Linked DNA regions of Homo sapiens. The protein of the gene in region 2 purifies or fractionates together with the protein of the main gene of each other region. This does not show direct contact. Each region holds a gene or a part of one and is shown on either strand. Other genes may lie near its edges.

Region 1 (2,854 bases), on a different chromosome or scaffold from region 2:
CAGGGTGCAGAGAACAAAAGGGGGTTTGGATTTTACAAAGTCAGTGCCCACCCATGTTGCCAGTTAGTTCTGTTTGTGCAAATAAAGGATTCAAACTTGCTTAGTTCTGATTGGTTATTGGAGCCAAGTTCTGATTGGTCAATAGAGCTGAGTCCTGATTGGTTAATTTAACTGAGTTCTGATTGGTTGGTTCGGGTGAGCTCTGAAAGCCCTAAAAAGAAAAAGGTGCTGGTTTTCAGGGTACTTGAGTAAGCTGTCATCTCTAGTCAAAAAAGGGCCACTTGGATCTATTTTAAATTTAGGGCCAGTGGCCGGGCACGGTGGCTCACTCCTGTAATCCTAGCACTTTGGGAGGCCAAGGTGGGCGGATCACCAGGGGTCAGGAGTTTAAGACCAGCCTGGCCAACAGGATGAAACCCTATCTCTACTAAAATACAAAAATTAGCCGGGCATGATGGCGGGTGACTGTAAGCCCAGCCACTCGGGAAGCTGAGATGGGAGAATCGCTTGAACCCGGGAGACGGTAGTTGCAGTGAGCCGAGATCACTGCCACTGCACTCCAGCAGGGACGGCTGCGACTTCGTCTCAAAAAAAAAAAAAAAAAAAAATTTTGGGCCAGTAAACCACGTGAGATCCATTTTGAAGGATGGGCTCTTTGATTTTGACGTTTATTCACAGATGCATCAGCACACATGTAGTTTCATTAGACCAGCCTTTTCTCCATGAGAATGGTATGAAATTTTGCAATGAGCACTCAATTGGAATCAGAGGACTATTGAGGACTGTCTCCAATTGTCAGAGGACTGTTGGACTATTCTTGGGCTCAAAAATGCTGCCACAACTTTCCAGCTTGGCAGGAAGCTTAAGCTTTCTCTGCACCTCTGTTTCCTAATTTGTAAAAGAGGTGGAATTATTTACTTCCCAGCATTATTGTGAAGCTTACATGAAATAACCTATGGAGAATCAATTTGTTAAAGCATTCCTCACTTTTGCAGGCCTTTGAGCTTGAAGTAAAAAACTTTTCCTAGCTAACATGTGTCACGTTTCTAGCTAACATTCTTTCTTGCCCCCTAACATATCCCTTGGAGTAAATATTACATCCCTAGCTCAACCACATGTTTTAAATTTACATTCAGTATAACCATTTTTTTTTAAACCAGAGGCACAAAAATCTCCTACAAGGAGATAATGAAATGTGTCTTCTCTCATCAGTGCAGCAAGGCAGAAATTTATGATCATAATTGCCTACTTTGCGGCAAAGTATCTTTACTATGGTTGCTAATAAGGCAGTCTTTTTCTAAGAACTGCAGGGAAGTGATGTGGAAGTAAAGGTTTTTTGGCCTGAAGGGACATGCTGAGAAATGAAGCTGTTGGCAGAAAACTTATCCTTGGCAGCATTTGGTGGGATGAGGCGATAGACTCATTCCCTCACTCCCTGTGGCCTGTCTCCTTCAAGGCAGGACACCCTAAGCTTAGGGAGCATCAGAGAGGGTGTTAAAGGGTGAGAACACCATTGGCTTGCCTGTTAACATGTTACTTTTGTCGCCCTCAGCCCAGCATCAGCGGGGTGGACCTTGATAAGTTCCGCGAGATTCTCCTGCGTCACTGCGACGTGAACAAGGATGGAAAAATTCAGAAGTCTGAGCTGGCTTTGTGTCTTGGGCTGAAAATCAACCCATAATCCCAGACTGCTTTGCCTTTTGCTCTTACTATGTTTCTGTGATCTTGCTGGTAGAATTGTATCTGTGCATTGATGTTGGGAACACAGTGGGCAAACTCACAAATGGTGTGCTATTCTTGGGCAAGAACAGGGACGCTAGGGCCTTCCTTCCACCGGCGTGATCTATCCCTGTCTCACTGAAAGCCCCTGTGTAGTGTCTGTGTTGTTTTCCCTTGACCCTGGGCTTTCCTATCCTCCCAAAGACTCAGCTCCCCTGTTAGATGGCTCTGCCTGTCCTTCCCCAGTCACCAGGGTGGGGGGGACAGGGGCAGCTGAGTGCATTCATTTTGTGCTTTTCTTGTGGGCTTTCTGCTTAGTCTGAAAGGTGTGTGGCATTCATGGCAATCCTGTAACTTCAACATAGATTTTTTTGTGTGTGTGGAAATAAATCTGCAATTGGAAACAAAAATGTACTGGTAATTGCTTTTGTCTTGTGACCTTTGAAATGTTCTACCTGATGGTTTGACTAACAAACCCCTTATCTAATGGGGATCGGGGGAATGGTGGAGAAGGAGAGTGAAGGGCAATATCTTAAAAGAAATCCACACCACCAATCCTTCTATAGTCCTCACATGCCCTCACTAGGGCTGACTTCCTGGTGAGCTGGCATTAAAGTGAGAGCTGCCAATAATCACTTTTTATTGGAAGGAGGAGACCAGAACACTCATCCTGGACTGGGGTTTGTTCTTAAGTGCTTGGTGAGCTCACATGGCTAGGCAGGTAGATATAGAGAAGAAGTATGAAGAAAATGTTTCCCAAGTAACCCGGGCTCCCCTCTCCATCCCTTCCTTTTCCAACAGTGCTCCCCAGCAAATCTGGGACCACGACAGCCTTCTTCTAGGTACGTGAGTGCCTCTCATGGGTGCCTCTGCATGCTCCTGGCCCCAACATGTGCCCTGCTCTCTTCTCTCCTGGAACTCTGATGCCATCCCCATGGAAAGGAGACTGTTGGGGCAAGGGGAGAGTTTCTGCAGGGTAGGCCCCACTTTCCTTTACTGTCTTCATCCTTTATTCTTCATAACACCCCTACCTTATACTAGACTGTGTAGTAATTTCAGGCTTAGTGAAGTGTTACAGATAATTCAGAAAAATTAGTGTAGAACAGTGTATTTAGAGCTGTTCATAACCCACGAA
Region 2 (4,588 bases):
GTTCGGGGGACCAGGGCCTTCCCTCTGAGGGCAGACCCCCAGGTGTAGGAGTCACGTTTCCCAGTCTGTGCCACCAACCGCCAAGCCTGGCATTTGAACCCAGCAGGAAGGCAGGAGAGACTCCAGCCTTCCCTTCCCACCCAACCCCTTCCTGCGTCTGACTTGTCCTCTCCAGCGCGTTATGAAGTATTGCCTATGGTTCCATCTGTGAGCAGACTTAGGGGGCTACGCTAATGACAGAGCGCTCTGGCAAGGCAGGATCTGGCTGCCTCTGCGGGGCCCACACCTTCCTCTGGAAGGGCTCGGGACAGAGATTTATTAACGAATCGCTTCTGCTTGGTGGTATGCGGTCTGGGAGTTCAGGCTAAGAGTTAATGAGAGGTGGGTAACAGTCAGAGGGTCTCAGTCAGACCATTCAACCGCAACTGCAAACCCCCATTAGTAATCAACTTTCCCACCACAAATCACGATTCATTTTTGCTCGGTGGCAAGTCTCTTAGGGAGGCAGGGGAAAAGGATTCTACTAACATTCCTGGTAATCTACCTGATTATTTCCCTTTCAATTAAAAATAATAATTTATACCTTTATTTCCTTCTCTTTGCGTAATGAGGATTTTCCAGAGATTCAAAATATTATTTTTCCCTTCGTGTTGAAAAGCAACCTCTTTCCCATAGAGAGGAAACCGAAATTATTATTTGGGTGTATTCCCAGACTAGATTTCTTAGAAATAAATACAGGAGGCAAAGCACAACTCCCACCACAGGGTGTATGCGTTGGGGAGGGGGGAGCGGGCATGTGGGGGAGTGGTGTTGGCTAAAGTACTGTTGTGACCTGTGATTTCTATACCAAAGGCACAGCGAACTCTGCCATAAAGGTTACACTGCCACAAAGTTGAGTGCCATCTTCTTTCCCTTTTCTCTGAATGGTTTATAATACAGAAATTAACGACTAATATAATTCAGGTTCATGTTAGTAAAAAAAAAAAGTGCTATTTCATAGTACCTGTTTGTTTTAATTTGTAGGGCAGATAGTTTCTTCATAGAGGAAGAGCAAACCATTGGTCCTTTTGAAACCCTTTTACAAACAGAACAACCTTAAATATCCACCAATGGCTCTTGCCACAAATAATTAGGAAGGTTAAATTTCCACACTCCCATTGAGTTGCTGGAAATGTATGTCAAAAGAAGTATTTTAAGTGAATGCAGAGATCCTAAAGTACTTTCGTTTTGTCTAGAGCTGAGCCTTGTAGTTCCCACACTCCCTTTCAGGAAATAACAGCGATCATCATCTGCTGTCATTTCTCCACCGTCCCGTTTCAGACCACTGGTTACTTTTAATCTTGCAAGGAAAGAAACTTAAACCAATGAAAAGTCATAAATATGTTGGTGGAGCTGAGGCTACTTTTCTTTCATCAGTCTTCTTCACAGGAATTTCCAGGCATGTGGAGAAATTTTGTAAAATTTACTTGACTGGCTGTCACCAAGGAAGATGTGTACACACTTATTTCAGTTCAGTGAAGCTTTCAAAACATTGGAGAAAAAAATTAAGAAGTAACTTGATAAGGAGTTTCGCTCTTTGGTAATGGTAATATTACACTGAATTATCTAAAAATAATATACAGTCAGGGTTCATCTGCTAAAACCTGTGCACTGGTATATGAGATAAATGACTGATGGTCGGATAGGTAGGCTCACTGAATTTCAGCCCAAACCACAGCAGAATTTTATATAAATTAGAGAGCTATAGACTAAGTAGATCAAAGAAGATCATTAAAAAGAAAAAAAATTGTTAAAGGACAGATTGTTAGGGCCAGACTGTATCAGGTGAATAGAGAAACGGCTGCGAAGTTCCTGCCCCTTCAGAGCGCCTCTGCCTTCCCAAGGAGTTAATTAAATTAAGATGCCTTCCGCATAATCTAGGTTCTGTTTCTCTGTGCTCCCCTTGCTCCCCCTGCGTGAGTAATTTTCTTGTTCTGCCCAGGACTGCAGTTTGTTTAGCAGAGAAAGTGGCTGTCTGCGCCCTTTCGCTTCGGGAAACGCCAGCCCCCTTTTGTTCTCGGCTAACAGGTAGGAAGACAGATCCGGGGCTCCCTCCACAAACACCTTTTCCTCGCTCCTTCTTCGTACAACTGCAACTCCTTTCTCACTTGCCGTTTCTCAGGAATCCGAGCGTTTAAGCCCCCGGGGAGTTTGCTTTTGGGCCCCCTCAGTCAGGACTAGAAGGTGGGAGGAGAATTTTAAAGCCAGCACGAGGTTGACAAATTACCGAGGACTGAACTATTTCCCTCTTGAAATGTGCCTTCAGCGTCGCTGGCTGGGCAGGCACCGGGTGTCCGGGCCCGTCCACGCTGCGCTGCCGCGGCTGCCCCGGGACAAGTCGACCCAGGCTTGCTAGGGCAGGAGCAGAAACACCATGGGATTGTGGGGTTTGATCTCAGTGTACGTAGACCAGCTTTTATAAGAAGTCTTGCTGACCGCTTAGATTAAATATCCCAAAACAAAATTAAGAAACAGTATGTAGAAATGTGTGTGGTTGGGTGTTAGCTGGGAGTCGCGTGCCAGGGACCCAAGGAAGTGAGAAATACAGTGCCCTGGGATTGCATCCCCATGATCTATTTTCACATCTGAATTTGGGGCACACCAGACCGAGAATCTGAACGCCTCTTACACCCCCAAACCCTTCCTTCCAAAGGGCAGCTACAGCCCCTTCCCAGAGCGAACACTCACCTCCCGCAGAAAGGTCAACCTGGGCAGCCGCGCTCAGACCCGGTCCAGGCAGCGAGGCGCACAGCTTGGAAAGGTCATTGAGTCCACGCCTGGCAAACTTTTTTTTCCGCGCGGAGTCGCAGGAGTCGCGGACATGATCTGGAGGACCGCGAGCAGCTAAAGCGAGAGCAGATCCACGTCTTCGTCAGAGTCTGTGGACGCGGACTGTGTAAAGACCCGGGGTGCTTGGGGCCGGCGTTCAGCGCTCGCCCAGAACCTCGCTCTTCGGCGAACCTCTCGCTGTCGACTCCCGGTGAGGTCGGAGCCCACAGCCTTGCAGGGCCATCACCCTCCAGCAGCAAGCACGCCGAGCTCCGTCCCCGCCCGCGTCCCTCCCCAGGCTGCCCCAGGCCGGGAGTCTTGGGCTTTAGTAGCGGCCCCGCCTCCCCTTCGGGCGGGCGTCCCGCCGCCGCGCGGGGCCCTCAGCGCCCTGGCTCCGCCTCCGCGCCCGGCGTCTGCTAATGGTCCACTCTGTTTACTTCTGTTTGGATAGCAACTGAGTCTTAAAGGCACAGGTTTGCTCGAGGTTTCCCTGTTATAGAGACGCAGCCGTAGGTGACTCAGTTCAAAACTCACACACAAACACAATACCCACCCCCTTTCTTCTCGTTGCCACTTTTCCTTATACCATTAGAAACTCAACAACTGCTTCTCTGCCTCTCAAAGACTCCACAGAGAATCCCAAAGGGCATTTAGTATTTTTATTTGGTTCGCTCGCCGGCTTAATTTGCACATCTTAACACATTCAATACAACTACCTTCACCGTAAAGTAAAATAATTCAGGTCTAGACTGCATTCTCCAGCATAAATCACTCTTTCCCCAATTTTAAACAGTTTTGTACATACTTTTGGTCAATTATGACTACATGTGTAGTCTGCTTTCGCCTGCTGTTTTCTAAACGAAGTTTGTTTACAGAGGTGGCAATTGACTAATTTAGTAATTATTGCAAAGACGCGTGGAATGCCCCAGGAGAAATTTCTTCCAATATTTAAGCTTTAATCGGCAAATGTTCATTTCATACGCAGTAAACCAACTTGGTTAAAACAGTGGGCATCTGCAACCCATTGGCAAAGAATAAAGAATCCATCTGGAATTGGTGAAGAACAATCATTTTTAAAATTTAGGAAAATGCGATTCTAGTTTTTCAAAACATTTACATCTTCATTCCCAGCAAAAATTGAGTTCAATGTTCAGTCTCCAGGAAAGTTAATAGAATTCAAAGTGCAGTGATACATTTTTCAGGTCCTTCTAAAGGTTTGGTCTTGTGTGAGTGTAACTGCAAAAAGCACTTCAACCTCTCTGGAATAGGGGTGACCGAGTGACAGGAAGGGAATGATACACACCCATTTTAAGCAGCTTCTTTTCAGATGTGATTTGCGTGATCAACACTAAGCAAAAACGCCCTTCGTCCCAGACGAGTTGCCAGAGGGGATCTGTGTTACTCCACGGCAAGCCCGCACTTTGAGGACGTAGATCTTCAACCAAGAGGCTGTACAATTCAAAAGTGTTCCGTCGAAAGATGGTTTTGAATGAGACGCCCCAAAGGACAATTCAAAAAATCTCAATCGTGCGGGGAAGTAGATAAATACAAGCAGAGGCTAAAAACTGTCAAAAGGTTAAGCAGTAATTGGGGAGTCAAGCAGAAGCTCCCAGATATTATTTTATTAAGATAAAATTCTTTCTATTTTATTTATGCCGAGGTGGAGAGAATTTTTCGTTCCTTTGGTAAAACATAACAGGGGTCGCAGATTTTTTTTCTGTCTTTCCAATTTTAAGTTCGCAAAGATTAAAAAGTGAGCTTGAAACGGAGATTCGAGTGT

What was found.
Region 1: the proteins of OSR2 (region 2) and SCGN purify together in Homo sapiens (affinity purification with mass spectrometry; one large-scale study listed by BioGRID and IntAct). This does not show direct contact.

Annotation. Positions count from the first base shown.
Region 1 is NC_000006.12:25,699,655-25,702,508, forward strand, and holds the end of SCGN (secretagogin), read left to right. Parts: intron 1-1,552; coding exon 1,553-1,681; 3' UTR 1,682-2,129; downstream 2,130-2,854.
Region 2 is NC_000008.11:98,942,963-98,947,550, reverse strand, and holds the start of OSR2 (protein odd-skipped-related 2), read right to left. Parts: upstream 3,110-4,588; 5' UTR 2,728-3,109; intron 1-2,727. UniProt on the Homo sapiens protein: May be involved in the development of the mandibular molar tooth germ at the bud stage.